Regions from separate parts of the Homo sapiens genome. Here region 1 is linked to region 2. Evidence: fine-mapped expression QTL. Tissue or cell type: whole blood. Region 2 holds a variant in brackets; the other region holds the start of a gene. All regions are shown on one strand. Distances are from middle to middle.

Region 1 (4,384 bases), 6.0 kb after region 2:
GTCTCTCAAGGCCCGCAACACGGTGTCCTTCTTGGACTAGAGTCTCAGTTAAATAACAAAGAGGGGATCTGATGACGTCCACGTGGGCTTCTCCCTGCCTTTGGTGGCGCCCCGGCCCTCCTGTGCGTCCTCCTGGCCCTGCTCAGATCCTAGGAGCCATCACACACTCAACATCCCCAGGCAGCACCAGCACCAAAGCCCCTCATTCCATAGCCCTCTAACACCTGGCTCAGAGTGAGCTCAGCTTCTTTTCTTCACACATGTCTTCATGGCAGCAAGGGAATCAAAAACTCTCCTCCTGGCCACCCACGGAAATGCAGCTGTCACCAGATGGAAAAGGAGGAGAAGATGCAGTGGGCTTGGGTGGTCCCAGGTGGCCCCTGGCCGGACTCTTTCCCTCAGTTGGGGGACAGAGGCTGATTGGAAGAGCACCTCCTTCCCAACGCTTGAGGACAGGGCCTTCCCTGACACCTGTGCCTGGGCTGGTCTTCTGCACCCTTAGCCTCAAGTAGCCTCAGACCACTGCAGTGCTGTTGAGGGTTATCCATAGCGTTTTTTTCCTGTGCTTTGGGTCTCCTTTGCCATCTGCAGCTGGACTAGGGGTCTTGGATTGCCAGGGAGGCTTCTGTGAAGTGGGCTGAAGAGAGCCCTTCCTCACTCGGAAGGCACAGCACAGCCCCGCCGCATTTATAAGTGAAAAGGGAGACCCCACTGTGATGGGGATCCTTCTGCCATTCCCCCAAGACCCCGGGATTGATGAGAGGCATTCAGAACTGCAAGGGGCATGAGGGGGCTGTCATGTCCTTGTCTGGGCGGCCTCCCAGGCTCAAATTGCTGCCTGAGAACAGGTGGCAGAACATTCCTGAATATTTAACCCTTGGCTCGCAAGAGTGCAGGAATGACAGTTCTGTGCCTGAGGAAAAGATTCGTGTCACTCGCACCTCACTTAGGACAACTCGTGCTTTACAGAAATTTACTAATGTTAAAGAATGATTTGTGGTTTCTTTGCTCAAATACAGGAAACTGACTTTTCTCAAAAATGAACTCTCCCTACCAATCTGCACCATGAAATTATTTCAGCAAACAAAAAATAATGGTTGCCCATCACCGCACACTGCGTGTGACTCAGCCATCACTCACAGGCAAAGAAGGGTGTTCTCTCCTCTCCCTGTCAGTTACTAATTCTCTGTAAATGACCATTTGACATCCTGGCCGGGGAGGATTCAGATCAGAGATGACTTCCCCACTGCCACAAAGTATGGTTCTGGGAAGGACAACCAGCCCCAAGGCCACGAAGATTCTGAAAAAGTTTCTTCTCATTTGAAGTCCAGTATTTCCTCGGCCCCATTTTTCTGTTAAACAATCCTTTTCCCTTGGAGATTGCTAAAGCTTAGCTCCAGGGCCAGCCTAAGCTCCAGCAGAACTGGGAGCGTCTCCTGTGTCTACATAGCTCCCTTCCCTCCTGCCTTCCTACTATCAAAGGAGAAACAGCGTGTAATTTGATTTTTTCCCCTTCTCCTCACTTGCCATACTGTGTTCTTTGCCTGGGCCTGTGCCTCTCCTTGCAGAGGCTGTGGACAGGAGCACCGAGAGCCACTTCCTGGAGCATGCTCCCCACCCCCGCAGCCTGTGGCTTCAGCCTCTGCTTCTGCAGACAGCGGTGGAGGAAGTCAGGACTGTCCCTTCTGACCTGAACACCTACCTCCAAGTCCTCCCTGTCGCCACAGAGACCCGGCAATGCAAGTGAGTCCTGTTTGACCTCGTCAATCATCGCAGACTGTAAAGGTGACTCGGATGCTCAAGAAACGAGCATACCCAGCAGTGGGCCCCAGACTTCTCGCAGGCCCAGGTCCTCCTGGGTGCACAGAGACCTACCAGACAACGGTCCGGCTGCACTGGTGTTGTGAGATGCCTGTGTCAGAAGACACTGAGTTCCTCACTCGCCTCCTATCATGCCGATGATCACAGGAGAAAGAGCAGGGCACATGCATGCCAGCATGCTGAAGGGAGGCCAAAACCCATGCTTGAAAACCACAGGTCCTGTTCTAGGAGCAGGAGATATATTTAGCCAAGCAGGATGTTTGTGGGTAAACCAACATTTTGCTGTAAATAAAATTCTGCAAACTCGGGACTTTGAGAATTGCAGAAGCTTACTTTGCCTGCGTATTGGCAAGAGAGCTATTTTCCTAACACAAGCTCACCATGACCCTCATTCAGAGATGCGCTTGACGCCGAGGGTGGTGCCTTTTCGCTAAGGGGTGCTGTCAGGGGATTGAGTAGGAGCCTGAAGAGCTAGGAGTATCTTCTCCCTGGGCAGACCAGCAGGCAGACCCTGTCCCTTCACACTACAGTGGCACGTGATGGGCCCCACTGCCCACCTGGTTCTGGTGTCCAGGCTGAAGTCCTCGTGTGACACTCCAAACTGTTCTGGCAAGGAAGGCTCACGGGTTCTGACCTACACTCTGAAACTGACCAGTAGTGATAAACTCCGCATGGACTTCAGCCATCATTGCGTACGTAAGAAATACGTGTTGCACACAGAGTGCTTCTCTACATTCCCAGGTTTGCCACTCCCCGACTTTTGCTGAAGCAGGTTTCTACTCCATCAGTCCCACAGATGTGTTCACAGGGCCAGCACTGAGTGTGGTGCTGGGGAAGGCATGTGCTTGGAGGCAGCCCTGTGAGATGGCACAGCCTAGGGGAGGAGTCGTGGTGGGGAAGACCCTGGCCACGCATGATAGAGGAAGCGTGGCCACACAGTCTTTGCTGTCCCTGCCACAGCATGGTGCTGTAAGTCTCCTCCTTCCGAGTCTGTGCAGACTTATGTGACACATTTGACCCAACAGAAATGCAGCATTTGTGGTGTGTGAAAGTTCCAGACCAGGCCACAGCGAGCTCCGTGGCTTCGGCTGTGTCTCCTGGAGCACTTGCTCTCAGGACCCCCTCTCTCAGAGCCCAGGCACCACGCCGTGAGAGAGCCCCAGCCACAGAGACAGGCTACGTGTAGGTGCTTTCATCAAAGTGCCACCTGTGCCTCCCCGCAGCAGTGTCAGGCCACCAGCTTGGACAGGCAGCTCCAGCCTCCAGTGGAGGCTTCAGAGGACAGCATCAAACAGCATCCACAAAGGAGACCCACCTTGTGAAAAGCGCCTAGCCAAGCCCTGCCCAAATCCCTGGCCTGTGCAATTGTGAGCAAAGCAATTCAATTTGGAGTGGTTTTATGCTGCAGTAGGTGACCAAAGCACTATGGAAGTGAATATCAGGAGCCCCTCACTGGGATGTCAGAAGACATTCAAGGAAGGTTTCCTGGAAGATTTAGTACCTCAGGTGGTACAGGAGAAGGTGAGATGGAGAGAAAGCAACCCCAGTCTGAAGACGCAGTGGTAAGAAAGGGTCATTCCCCTGGGCATGTGTGGTCTGCTGGGGGATGACAGCCGAGGTGAACTTGAAGCAGAGGACACTCAGACAAGCTGCACTCTGAATCCCGCTACGCTGACCGCAGCACTTGCTGAAGAAGCCGCCTCGCCACGCCCAAGCCCTGCAGAGGGAAGGACTGAGGAAGGCAGCTCAGAGGCCTCAGGCAGCCACAGTGTGCATGCTTGTCTATGACTCACAGCTACGACGTGGCCTGTGCTGCTGCAGCTGCTGATAAGCCTCAAACCTCATATACCACTCTCTTCCGAGGATTTTTTAAATACACAAAACTGGGAGTGAGAGGGGTATTTAATTCCCCTACTAACACATGTTGGGCGCAGCTGGAGCAGCCAGGCCCACTGTAGCTGGGAAGATGCGGTGCCTTGAGGTGCAGGCACTGCTCACTGCCACATGTGAGCACAGGTTCTGAGGGTGAAAGGTCCCTGGTATCTGGCCAGAGTGTTAGACTCTGGAACATAAGAAGCCCCCGAGGTGGTGGAGAAGGTCTAGCCAGGCTCCAGACTGGCTTCACAGAGGTAATGCTTTTTGGTTTGAAATCCGTAAGAGCGCACTACAACTTCAGGGCAAGCTCCAACAGTGCTTCTCAAACTTTAATGAGCACCCAAATCATCAGGGGGCGCGGGGGCAGTGGGTCGCTTACTAAAATGAAGATTCTGCATCAGGAGGTCTGGGGCGGTGACACGATTCTGTGTTTCTAACACGTTCCTGGGTGAGGCTGAAGCCACTAGTCCATGAAGCACACTTTGAGTAGCAAGAATGTGGAGGAACTGTCCCAGGATGGGCCATGATTTACCTGAATTCTCACAGTGGCTTAGACAATGGAGACCTTGTCCACAACTAAAAAATAAAAATAAAATCGAACCACACTCATTGTTCCAGGAAACAGCAATAACATTGGAAATAAATCAAATGGTTTATTACTGAGATTGTATTATCAGAGCTATATATT
Region 2 (4,384 bases):
CTCAGCACTTCTCCACTTGTGGGCTGGTTGGGCTTCCTTGCAGCATGGTGGCCATGCTCGATCAGGGCAGTCAGACTGCTTCCACGGTGGCCCAGGAGTATTCCAGAGAGCCAGCAGGAAGCTGTCACCTCTTCATGACCTGGCCTTGAAAGTTACGTAGCATCACTCCACCGTAACTTTGGTGGACAGGCCACTAAGTCAGGCCCAGAATCAAGGGGACCAACACTGACTCCACTTCTCGGTGGGTGGAGCTGTAAAGCCACCTCACAGGACTGTCATGTTATTTATGAGCTAATATCTGTAAAGTGCTGAGAACCATTCCTCACAGTAATGCAATTTATACAAGTGTTTCTTAAAGAAAGCATACTGCTCATGGATTTGAAAATCATGTCTCAGTAAGCTAACTCCCTGTTTGATATCCAGAACATTCCTGCATCACCCAGTGGGGGAAGCACCAAATCCTGTTGCTCTTTCACTGCCATGCAAGTGCCTGGCCATGGAAGTTGGAGTCAGAATCCTTGTCACACCTTCCAAAAGTTTCACCAGAGGTTCAGAGAATCCAGAGAGGGCTGGATCTCCACCCTTCCAGGGAGAGGGAACAAACAGTGGGCTTCAGCAGCCTGACTCAGGAGCAAATTCCTAGATGACTCTACCTGGAACATGGCACACTGGGGCTCAGGGCTGTGAAACTCAGAGCAAAAACAAGGCCAGTGTTGACTGAGGCTCTCACCCTCCACTGCACGTTCAAACCATCTGGAGACCCTCAGATGGCTCCACACCTGGCCTCTCCCCAGGCAGAGCTCTGAAGTGGGACCTGGGCTTCAGAATTCTGAAACCTCCCAAGCGATTTCAAGACACACCAAAGCCTAAAAGTAACTGAAATGATGGGTTTCCGACGCTCCTGTGCTTGCGAGTCACTTGGGGACCTTGTTAAGATACAGACTCTCACTCAGTGGGGCCGGCTGAAATTCTGCATTGCTAGCAATCTCCTGGCAATGTTCATGCCTCTGGTCTGTGGACCACGCTTTGAGTAGCAGAAAAATAGAGCAGCATTTCTTAGTCTTGTCTTGTCTTTTTAACTCTATGCTTCCCACTGATTAATGTACAAATCCCATGCCTTCTTTTAATATTATTTGAAAACTGCACAGTAAATTAAATATTGCAACTAAAACCAAGTGTTAATTTGAGGGGACAAAATTCTGCATTGTTTGCACAACTCACTTCTGGGCCTTCCCATCCCACCAACACCTACAATCTGGGAAAACACCCTGTTGCAAAAACAACTGGAGGTGGCACCCATCCGGCTTCACCCAGGTTTCCACCGGCTCCTTCACCCGGCACCTAAAGGACTCACCACCCACCCCCTATTGGGGTCTTGCTTCACCCATCAACAAGCAAGATAATGTCAGGTGGCCTCGAAGGGCCTTTCCAATATCACTAGGGACTTTTGATCTTAAATCATCTTTTAATCTTTTCCATCCCATGGATCCTCGGCCTCCTCTGTGACTTCCAGGAAAGAAGCAGGCCTCCAAAAGCATTTTCTACCACAGGCACTTGTGCCTAGGGACTTTCCTGACAAGGACATGAACAGGCACATCAGGGTTGGTGACCACACCATAAGATGCTGGCAGGAACAAGGCCTAGGCCAAGGGTTGAGGAAACTATCTATAAGGGCTAGATGGCCTCTCAGGCTCTGCTGTGAGCTCACCACTATTCGGCTCCACCCCTGAAGCACAAAGAGCCACAGA[T/A]GGTGTGTGAACAAAGGGTGTGACTGCGTTCCAGTAATATTCACTTCACAAAAACAAGCGTTGGGCCGGATTTGGCCCACAGGCTGTAGTTACCGGAGAGCAGTGCTTCTCAAACTTTAATAGCACAGAGATCACTCAGGGATCTAGTTAAAATACAGATTCTGAGAACATGGATTTGAGTGCAGCACTGTCCAACAGAAATATGATGGGGCCAGGCAAGGTGGCTCATTCCTGTACTCCCAACACTTTGGGAAGCTGAGGCAGGAGGATCACTTGAGCCCAGGAGTTCAAGACCACTTGAAGCAATATAGTGAGACCCTGTCTCTATTAAAAAAATAAAAGTTAAAAAAATTGACCGATCAGGGCAGATCACCTGAAATCAGGAGTTCAAGACCAGACTGGCCAACATGGTGAAACCACGTCTCTACTAAAATAAAAAAATTTGCCAGGCATGATGATAGGTGCCTGTAATCCCAACTACATGGGAGGCTGAGGCAGGAGAATCGCTTGAACCTGGGAGACGGTGGTTGCAGTGAGCCAAGATCACACCACTGCACTCCAGCCTGGGCAGCTGAGCGAGACTCCATCGCAAAAAAAAAAAAATTAGCTGAGTGTGGTACCACACGCCTGAAGTCCCAGCTACTTGGGAGGGTGAGGTGGGAGGATCACTGGAGCCCAGGAGGTCAAGGCTGCAGTGAGCTAAGATTGCACCACTGCACTCCAGCCTGGGTGACAGAGCAAGACCCTGTCTCAAAAAATAAAGAAATATAATGGGAGTCACATATGAAGTTTAAAATTTCCTGGTAGAGACTTTAAGTTAAAAAAAAAGTGAAATTAATATTAATAAGATACTTTATTTAATCGAATATACCCAAAAGAGTATGCTTTCATCATGTGGCACTAACCACATTTCCAGTGGCCATAGTCATGGTTACACAGGATCAAGCCTGAAAGCCTGCATTTCAGACAAGCTCCCAGGTGACAAGAATGCTGCCAGTCCAGGGACCTCACTTTGTAGGAAGGGCCCAAAGAATGCTATCTTCTACCTGGGCTGGTGAGACAGCTGTGGAGCTTCCACACAATTTTCTACAGGACACTTGGCAAACTGAATATGTATCCTAAGATAGGAATGCTTGAAGTCACATCTTAGGGAACATCCAGCTCATTGATACCATCCTTGTGCGTGATTATCAAGTAATCTTTCTCAAACACTCTCACCAGGTATTTTACACAAAGCCCAGTAAATGGGGGCCCTGTCTCCTCCATATCACACAAAGGAAATGACATGTGTGGATAAGGAATGACAGGACAAGTGTGTGCTGGCGCCATCCACGGCCTTTACACTGGCCTCTCCAAGAAGTTCACAGTTCCATGAGCGAGGCTTAGGAATTCCCATTTTACGGAGGAGGAACCAATCTCCAAGCTTAAGAAGCTGCAGCTAGAAATGAGCAACCCTGTGCCTGAGGCCCAAGTCCATCCATTTCCAAAAGGCTAGGCTCATAATCCAAGGAGTGCAGCATACAAGATGCCGCCAGGCATGAGTCACAGACATTTCTATTTCAATATTTTTAATAGAACATCTCCAGTTTATCAAACTCGTGATATGTCACAGACAAAATTGCTTACCTTAAGCTGAGGATTATTTTAAGAATCTGTTTCAATTTTATTTATTTTTTAAGCCAAGAATTTCCAGTTTTTATTTCTATAACATGACTTAACAAGAAAAACATTCCCCCAATTTTTTAAAAATTAGGTTGGATTAATTTACAATATATGAATCAACTTAAAATATCAGCCCTTTTATTTAGAGCCAAGGATGCTATTTTAACAGCAGAATTGCACCATTGATACTTTTACCTATATTTGATGGCACAGATATGCAAAAGTCATACGACTTCCACTGACACCCTCTCCTCCCTCCAGAGTAGCATTCACGTAATTTATCTTAGGTCAGTTACAAGTTATATGTAAGAAATGGTTAAGTGGGCTGGGCATGGTTGGTGGCCCATGCTTGTAATCCCAGCACTTTGGGAGGCCTGGTGGGGGGTGTTAGGTGGGGGGAATCGCTTTGAGCCTAGGAGGTCAAGGCTGCAGTGAGCTATGATTGCCCCACTGCACTCCAGCCTGGGCACCAGCATGAGACCCTGTCTATAAAAGGGAAGGGGAAGGGGTGGGGCAGGGGAAGGGAGAGGAAGAAAGGAAGGAGAGAAAGAAAAGGGAGAAAGAGAGGGAAAGAAGAAGGGAGGGAGGGAGGAAAGAAGGAAAAAAGGAAGGAAGGAAAGAAAGAGAGGAGGGAAGGAGGGAGGGAGGGAGGAGAGAGGAAAGAGAGAAAGAGGAGCGAAGGAGGGAGGAAGGAAGGAAGGAGAGAGAGGAAAGAGAAAGAGGAGGGAAGGAGGGAGGAAGGGAGGGAAGGAAGGAAAGAGAGGAAAGAGGGGAGGAACGGAAGGAGGGAAAGAGGGAAGGAAGGAGGGAGGGAAGGAGGGAGGGAGGAAGGAAGGAAGGAAGGAAGCTAAGCAATATAACCCTGTGGCAACATTTGTAAAAGTGACTCTGAGAAGACAGAAAGATCCTCTATGAGAGACTGGTGTCCCCAGGAATTGGCGAGGCCTGCTGAGGATCATTTGGGTAAATGTCAT

Evidence for each region.
Region 1: LINC02937 starts here. The variant in region 2 is fine-mapped to the expression of LINC02937 in whole blood (TOPMed, PIP above 0.99).

Annotation. Positions count from the first base shown.
Region 1 is chr9:91,161,303-91,165,686 of GRCh38, forward strand. It overlaps LINC02937 (long intergenic non-protein coding RNA 2937), which reads right to left and starts at 1,978. Exons shown (of 6, transcript NR_184105.1): 1 at 1,703-1,978. All of the region lies in intron 2 of LINC00484 (long intergenic non-protein coding RNA 484), which reads left to right. RefSeq lists enhancers at 1,938-1,987, 3,385-3,679.
Region 2 is chr9:91,155,338-91,159,721 of GRCh38, forward strand. The region is part of intron 1 of LINC02937 (long intergenic non-protein coding RNA 2937); the gene reads right to left. The region is part of intron 2 of LINC00484 (long intergenic non-protein coding RNA 484); the gene reads left to right. Among named protein-coding and RNA genes, the nearest start is that of LINC02937, 5.8 kb to the right of the region's middle. The variant T/A (reference allele first, on the strand shown) is at 1,749.